Linked DNA regions of Homo sapiens: region 1 is reported to be linked to region 2. Evidence: microRNA targets listed by miRTarBase, many of them from high-throughput screens and not tested one by one. Region 2 holds a microRNA gene; the other region holds the end of a gene's coding sequence.

What was found. Region 2 holds the annotated microRNA hsa-miR-4639-3p (UCACUCUCACCUUGCUUUGC, at 1,553-1,572, shown strand). A microRNA usually pairs through its seed, bases 2 to 8, with sites in the 3' UTR of a target mRNA and lowers its output. Matches are read on the target gene's strand: a 7mer-m8 pairs with bases 2 to 8, a 7mer-A1 pairs with bases 2 to 7 and ends in A, and an 8mer does both.
Region 1: the mRNA of SLC35B4 is a reported target of hsa-miR-4639-3p. Seed matches in the 3' UTR shown: 7mer-A1 at 1,823-1,829.

The regions. Positions count from the first base shown.
Region 1 is chr7:134,291,319-134,295,650 of GRCh38, reverse strand. SLC35B4 (solute carrier family 35 member B4) reads left to right here. Exons shown (of 10, transcript NM_032826.5): 10 at 572-4,332. The coding sequence ends at 818. Among named protein-coding and RNA genes, the nearest start is that of SLC35B4, 23 kb to the left of the region's middle. RefSeq lists a silencer at 2,354-2,413.
Region 2 is chr6:16,140,051-16,144,453 of GRCh38, forward strand. It overlaps MIR4639 (microRNA 4639), which reads left to right and starts at 1,506; the gene lies at 1,506-1,574. MYLIP (myosin regulatory light chain interacting protein) reads left to right here. Exons shown (of 7, transcript NM_013262.4): 3 at 1,575-1,760; 4 at 2,970-3,167; 5 at 3,649-3,813.

The DNA.
Region 1 (4,332 bases), not on the chromosome of region 2:
CACTCCACTGCACTCTAGCTTGAGTAACAGAACAAGACCCTGTCTCAAAAAAAAAAAGAAATTTCAAAGTAATCAAGTTTTCGTTTTTTAAAATGGTTATTTCGAATGACCTTACTTTCATTATAAAAATAATTATGTCTTTGAAATAGTGAAACGAATCGAGATTGACCTCATTCCTCTGAAGTCAGCTCCTAGATTTGCCAGAGTCCCTTTCTGGAGGAGGGGATAGAAGGGCTGGAGGCAAGATAAATAAAGGTGAATGGGATCACCCTTACCGAGAGCGTCACCCTCTGTCATTATCTTGGAGGTGCCTGTCATTGTAACCATAGGAAGACTCCAACATAAGAATAATTGGGGGTTTTTTGGCGGTTTCAAATTGGTACCCATAAATGGAATGGCAGGACAGGAGTTGTTCTGCAGGTTCTCCCCAGGAGGAGCCTCAGAGCTGCCGTAGCGGACCTTCATGTTTTCTTAGAATATGAGAAGTTAAACCAGGGACCATGCCAGAAGGTTCTCTCACTGATCCCCCAAGTACAGTCTACAGAAAACTACCTTGACTCCACTCCTCCAGGTACGTGTGCATCCGGGGTGTGTTTATCCTCACCACAGAATGCGCCTCCCTCACCGTCACGCTCGTCGTGACCCTACGCAAATTTGTGAGCCTCATCTTTTCCATCTTGTACTTCCAGAACCCCTTCACCCTGTGGCACTGGCTGGGCACCTTGTTTGTCTTCATTGGGACCTTAATGTACACAGAGGTGTGGAACAACCTAGGGACCACAAAAAGTGAGCCTCAGAAGGACAGCAAGAAGAACTGAGGCCTGTCTGGAGTACGTAGACCAGTGTCGTCGTGAGGGTGGGACCCTGTGAAGGTCTGACCACCGTTTCGCTTTTGTTAATGCCGAGCTACCCGCAGTGCTGAGCCAGCCGTGCAAAAGGAAATCTTCAGGAGGGGACTTCTCACGTTGCTCAGACTGACACATGTAGACTAAATAGAAACCCCTCAGCCCTAAAATAGAAAAAAGAACAGTTCTGGACTATTGAACAGCCCATTCATTTATTTCTGTTTTGTTTACCGACATATTCAGTATTATTCTTGTTTTCTGAATTCTGAGTCTCCTGAACAAAAGGCTTACTATCCATGGTCTTGGAAAAGATTGTCCCTTCTCTTGCTGTTGTAATGCATCTCTGCTACAGCAGTCATTGTCATCCTGTGACCTTATCCCTTTTGTCTCCCATCACCTTTTCCTTCTTCAGCAGCACCTCACAGTCAGTCAGACGCTGCAGGCACCACTATCACCAGGAGTGGCCAAGTAAACCGAGACACCAGTAACAGCAGGGCTGGACTTCCTCCAGCGTTTTGGGAAGGAAAGAGATGTTCCCCTGAGCTGATTCCCAGTGACAGTGCAGCAAGACTAGTGGGACTCCTCTTTCCCACATTTTGCTTTTTTTTTTTTCTATGCAAAAGTCAGATGCTTCTATCCATTGCTTTCTGTGATTAGGGCGGCCCTGCAGCATATCTCACAGCAGACACAGTGTTCATAACAAAGAAAGGTTGTGCCGGGCACGGTGGCTCACACCTGTAATCCCAGCCCTTTGGGAGGCTGAGGTGGGTGTATCACTTGAGGTCAGGAGTTCAAGACCAATCTGGCCAACATGGTGAAACCCCATCTCTACTAAAAATACGAAAATTAGCTGGGTGTGATGGCGCATGCCTGTAATCCCAGCTACTTGGGAGGCTGAGGCAGGAGAATCACTTGAACCCGGGAGATGAAGGTTGCAGTGAGCTGAGGTCGTGCTACTGCACTCCCGCCTGGGTGACAGAGTGAGACTCTATCTCAAAAAAAAAAAAAAAAAAGAAAGGTTGTTATGGACTGGACACCCCTGAAGCCCATTGCCTAGGCCACAGTGGTGACGGCAGGATGGCCCTGCTCAGCACCGCAAGAGCCATGGCTGTCCCTGTTGGCCCAGCCGGGCACTCACAGGGCAGAAGGGTGGGTCTCAAGTGGGAGGATAAGGCTTCACCACCAGGAGATTCCCCTCTGCCCGATGACTCTGTTAAGAGTCACGACCCATCAAGGGAATGCATAGATGGAGATATATAGTGTGTGATGTGTAAATCAGGTCAAACCTCAACGACAATTGAAAGTTGTTATTGTCCTATGAGGTATCTTAGCATTCTCGATGGGTATTGAGGATGGTTGGATGTGCTTTATTGTGTGTGGAAACATGCCTCTCTTTGCTAATCATTTCAGAGGTCCAGTTTTCCTTTCACTGGACAATCTTGAATAGGAGGAACGCTGTTGCTGTAATATGCGTAGCTTCTGTGTGCTCTTGTGTAGTCTGTGTGTGATCAAAGGGCACGGAAGTGGCTGCACTTTCACATCCCTTTTCTTTACTTAGCTGGAACCTTACATACCAGTACATGCTCCTCTGTAAGCAGCTGAACTCACCGGCCACTTCTCTGTTTGCCTATAGACAAAGACTGTGTGTGTGTGTGTGTATGTATGTGTGTGTGTGTGGTGCACACATTGTGTTCTTAAACTGAGACGTGGCTCTGCAGGTCTCCTGGGCTCATTCCATGGTGTGGTATGTTTATTCCACTGTCCAGAGCTATTCTCTGATGGATTTGAGCAACAGCAGTGGAGATAAATGTCCTAGAGTCACCAGGTCGCTTGGAGAAGTCATTTAAGCTGCCTCGGGTTTTTGTTACTTAAAATGTGGATATTATTTCTCCACCTAAATCACTGAGTTTACAGAGTAATAATGTGTTGCTCTGGACATTGACAGCTTTCTAGAGCCAGTAATGGGCTCTTCTGAAGGATGCTGAATTAGAAGTGAACCTATTCATAGGATCAAAAGCCACTTGCTTTGAAATATGTAGAGTTCCTCAGAATTGACGGTGCTAGAAATATCCAAGTGTTAAATAACCTTTTAAAAGCAACAAAAGCTACTTTTTTCTTACCACTTAATAGAAGAACCTGTCCCTAGAGGCGACTTCATTGCTATGGATCTGGAGTCTCTGAACTCTTAATAGGATGCAGCCTCACATACATAATGTCACCCATTTTATGTTGATGAAAACATTACAAGTTTTCTTCATTGGGTATGTGTTGATGTTCACAGACAGTACTTGGGCCCATTAGGTTTTCGCGTCTGGTCTTAGAGCATGTGTATTCATCTCAGCGTGAATACCTCAGCCAGTCTTATGAATAGGAGGCTATGTATGGGCAGGGAATAGATTAGATTAGAACACTCGCACAAGATGACCACATATAGAAGCAGAAAGCCCCAAATTCCCTGGGAACTGTTTTTTCTCTAGTAGCTGAATATAAGGAAATATGTCTAATGGACACCAGTTAATACTTTTTAAAACTACTCTTTAAAAAAAAAATACGTTCCCCTTGGTTAACTGATTTTTTAATCCAGGGTGGACATTTTTTCAACCTTTATTAAAAAGACAAATAAACTATTTTGTAGAAGATCAGACTCCTACTTAACTGGAAGAGAAATGTCTATTAAATGTCTCTCCTCTTTCTCTGGGTCAAGACCATGTAATTTTATGCTTCAGAGATGAAGATACTGTTTGTTTACAAAGAGTTTAGTTTTTAAGACATCCAAAACTCTATGCTAGAGCAAAAATCAAATAGCAAAGGACACTAGCCAGAAAATACAGTGTGTGTGTGTGCACCTGTGTGCCTGCTGAACAACTTGACAGTGTAACAGATAAGGTAACTGAAGATGGTGGATATTTGAATTGTATTAGCTTAATGTCTACATATCTTTGGCCAAAACTCTATTGTCATATTAGAAACATGTTATCTTTTTCATGTTTATTAGTAATTTATTTTTGATTCTTTGTTTTCTTTTTCGTCCAACTAAAACAACTGTAATGTACTTGATACATTTATATCAAGTTCTAAAGTATTTAGACAAATCCAAATACTTTGTTTTTAGTTTTTTCCTCCTTTCCATCCTGTTAACCACAGTGAAACGCTGCAGTATTTTGATTTGGTCAGTGCTACGGAGGAAGACCATGAAAGCTGAATTGGTCTGTGCCACCCAGAGTAAACCTCTTCTCTTCTTCTGGAAAGATGGCGTGATGTTTTTCAAGGATTCTAATAAATATCCCGCAGTCATCTCCTGAGCAGCTTTCCTCTGTTTCACTTCAGAACTCCTTCCCCCACTTTCTTCACTCCAGTTTCTTCACTTGCAGCGTTTTCTGCTAAGAAAGACTTATCATCTTGTATCTGTTTATGCCTCTCTTCTTTGGGGCCCCTGGATGTTTTTGTGGATTTTTACAGAGTATTTATATCTGCACAGCGTGTATTT
Region 2 (4,403 bases):
TTCTTACCTTGCTCATGTTCCTCTACCTGGAATGTCAGACACAGATATATTATTAAACAGAAACAGTGCTGAGGACATCGCACCTGGCCAAAGTTACAATTCATTTGTTAATGGGACGAATAATGTGGCAATTAGCCTTGTTTGAGAGGTTATGACAAGTCATCGAAGGAAGGTTAAAACTTCACATTTGCCAGGGACACTTGTTATAACTGAGGCCAATCTGTCTACAGCAGTTTAGGTGCTCTTCAGAGTTTTGGGCAGTGTGACCAGTATCTGAATTTTACAGGAGTTTTTAAGTGTGACATAACCTTTTAGTAAATGTAGAATATAGTATTGTATACAACTAGGATGGGCTTAAACAGGATGAAACTAAGGTTGGAAGGTAAACTAATCACACATAATATGCAGTTTTATGTACATTTTTGGAGCTCTCTGATGTTCGAGGCACTTAAGAAGTCATACATAATATACATGTTATGTCAAATACTGTACCAGAGGAATAGAGGATTTGCATGTGATACAGACCAAAGGGTATCCAAGCAAGGCGACAGAAAGAATGGCCCTCAGGACAGAGGGAGCAGCAAGACCAGAGACACCAGAGCATGAACATGCTTCCTAGATTTCCCAGGGAGAGGAATCGTTCCCTATCCTGGGGCATAGCAGCTGCAGGGAATGACAGGAGACGTGGCTGGAAAGCTGGGGCCAGATGGCGGAGACTCCTCAGCTCCACGTTAACAACGTGCTCCCTTGGCAAGCCGTACAGATCCTTTGAAGGATTTTGAGCAGAGAAATGACAAGTTTATACTAGAAACAAGCAGCATGGAAGGTAGGCTGCCTGCATGGAGTCTGGAGGAGGAGAGCAGCGCAGAGAATAGTGTAAATTCTTCCTGCAAGTAGTATTGAGGAGGTACAAATGGGAGGATAGAACTGGATTTAAATAGTTTTCAGAGAGAAGAAAGTCAAGTGAAATAGGACAAAGAGTCCAAAGTCAGTCCGTGGTCTCCATTCGGAGAAAAAGGGCTTGGGAAAGAATATATGGAGTTTGGTTTTGAATGAGCCAAAATTGAGGTACCGAAGAACATCCAGGTGGTGAAGCCTATAGGAGATTGGACATTTTTCATGTGATTCTTAGGACAGAAGCTGGCACTGAGACTAGAGATTGGGGTATCATTTGAATAAAGGTGAGAATTTTGTCTTTATGTATAGAGTTCCTTAAGATTCTATCAGAATCCATGTCAAGATACAATTTTTCTGATTAAAATAATTTCTTTTAAAACACTATAATGCAGAAACTTATGTGTAATTATTTTATGTTTTGTAACCTTAATGTTACCGAACTTGTGTTAAATAAGTTTATCTTGTTTGGGTCACAACTTTTATTCCAGAGAAACGCAGTTCTTATTTTGATTTTGCCTTAATACTGATGATTTTTTTTTGAAGTTCTTTAATGTTAAGCATTTTCAGTGTGACTTTTAAAATTGCTTTCCTTAAAAGTGACTGTGAAATTGCTAAGTAGGCTGAGATTGATGTCAGGTTATCCCCAAGCATAACCTCACTCTCACCTTGCTTTGCAGGCATATCTTTTTCTTGCACATCAAGGAGGCCCTCTTGGCAGGCCACCTCTTGTGTTCCCCAGAGCAGGCAGTGGAACTCAGTGCCCTCCTGGCCCAGACCAAGTTTGGAGACTACAACCAGAACACTGCCAAGTATAACTATGAGGAGCTCTGTGCCAAGGAGCTCTCCTCTGCCACCTTGAACAGGTGAGGCTGTTGAATATAGTATTGTTTACAACTAGAATAGGCTTAAACAGGATGAAACTAAGGTTGGAAGGTAAACTAATCACACATAATATGCAGTTTTATGTACATTTTTGAGCTCTCTGATGTTCGAGGCACTTAAGAAGTCATACATAATATACATGTTATGTCAAATACTGTACCAGAGGAATAGAGGATTTGCATGTGATACAGACCAAAGGGTATCCAAGCAAGGGGACAGAAAGAATGGCCATCAGGACAGAGGGAGCAGCAAGACCAGAGACACCAGAGCATGAACATGGCAGCATCAGGGCTACTGCATATATTCATAGAGCTATCAAATGTATAAGCATTTCCAAAAGAAGATGAATCTGTGGTACATACACATAATTTGTGAAGTTAAGACTGGGCCATTGCCCAATTTAACCAAATATTTTCAAAAAATTTGTTAGCCTTTTATTTGAAAAATATGTAAACACAATATGAAATGCTATATAAAATGGGAATTTTTTAAATCTGTGCCTTTAAGTACAAATCTCCTAAAATAAAAAATCTATTATGTATATTGGTGTTTTCTTCATCCCAGCAAGAATTAAACCAGGAGATCTAACATAGGCATTTTAGTTATCTATTCCTGCATAACAAGTTACCCCAAAACTTAGTGACATAAAACAACAAAAATTGTCTCACAGTTCTGTAGGTCAGGAATCTGGCCATGTCTTGGCTGGGTCCTCTGGCTCATGAGACTGTAGTCAAGCTGCAGGTAGAACTCTGTCTCATCTGAAGGCTCGACTGAGGGTGGCCTCCATGCCAGGTTGACTCCTGTGGTTTGTTGGCCTACCTCCTTCCCTGGCCACAGGGGCCTCAGGGGTCAACTTTATACTTATAAACTATATGTGGACAAATGCATGAGACTTTCCAATATGTAAATTTGACTTATGTATATTTTTAGAGACTTTCCATAATTCTTCCAATTCATCACCCATCCAGCATCCCCAAAGTGTTTTTACCAAGTATTTAATAGTTGAGATCCCAGTGTCTTAGACGTTTTTTATAGTAAGTTCGCTAAATACATGAAACATCAGTAATACATAAGTTTTAAGTTGTTGTGATTCATCAGTGTTAGTATATTTCACTCGTGAAGACTACATAGGTTTATCTCTAAAGCTAATATCTGTATACTTAATTCTCTGTCCTCTTGGTGTCCTCCAGCATTGTTGCAAAACATAAGGAGTTGGAGGGGACCAGCCAGGCTTCAGCTGAATACCAAGTTTTGCAGATTGTGTCGGCAATGGAAAACTATGGCATAGAATGGCATTCTGTGCGGGATAGCGAAGGGCAGAAACTGCTCATTGGGGTTGGACCTGAAGGAATCTCAATTTGTAAAGATGACTTTAGCCCAATTAATAGGTAAGCCAAGACTTAACTTTTTTTGACCTAAGCATGTGTATACATCTGTAGCTGTCAATGTAATAGAAAATAGGAAGGGATTTACTCGACAGTCAGCTCTTAGGAATGAAAGATTTCATTTTGGTATGTACATTAATTTTATTCAGGCCTAAATAACCATTTTAAATGTTATTCAAGGTATACAATGTGGCAGAGTTAACGTTTTCCAAATAACCCATTCACTGCCATAAAAAACTTGTTTTCAGCTCTAGACATGCATGTGCGCACACCCAGCACTTGCTCCCATACTTCCCTCCACATATGCCCAACTGCTTTTCACTGTATCTTTACAATAAGGCAGCATTATGGTGATGTGATAACCCCAGAGGAAGCGTCTGATTTTTCTGCTAGGTCATGAGCAAATGGGGATCCCACAAAGGCACACACATGGTGAAGAATCACTCCTTCTAGATCTGCTTTCTTTTCTCTTCCTGTCTCTTAGGATAGCTTATCCTGTGGTGCAGATGGCCACCCAGTCAGGAAAGAATGTATATTTGACGGTCACCAAGGAATCTGGGAACAGCATCGTGCTCTTGTTTAAAATGATCAGCACCAGGGCGGCCAGCGGGCTCTACCGAGCGATAACAGAGACGCACGCATTCTACAGGCACGTATCTCGTGTGCTTGGTCACCTCAGCACCACAGCTCTCAGGTTTTTAGGTGACAACCAGGTTTCTACGGTTCCTTGGATTGTTGTGTCAATGAGTCTAGTACAGAATTTAAGAAATTCTGAACATTTTGTTTCCGTAGTAGCAGTGGAGTCCTTATTAATGTAGTCTTGTTTTACCCACAGAAGGTGCATGTGTGTGAGCTGCACAAACACATTCTCTGCTTACCTCCTACCGTATTCTCTTATGCCATTAATCTAGACACAAAGTGTGTTAGGAGATTTCTATGCCTATTTAATCAATACAACAACCCTAAGGGGTTATTATTACCCTAATGTTAAAGATGAGGGAACTGGGAGGATAATTATTTACTTAGTCTAGGACTCAGCTTCAAAGCCAAGTTTGATTACCCTAAAGGTAACCCTGAGGGACTGGGCCTGCTCCACTGCTCAGGAGAAGGATAGCACAGATCATCTTTTCTTTCTGGCAGAGCTGCTATCCTGAGTCGTCACTGTGTATGGAAGGATTTTTTAATAGCAATATTGATTCCCTCATTTCAGAGGGTACTTTAAAGCCAAGTTGTGATTGG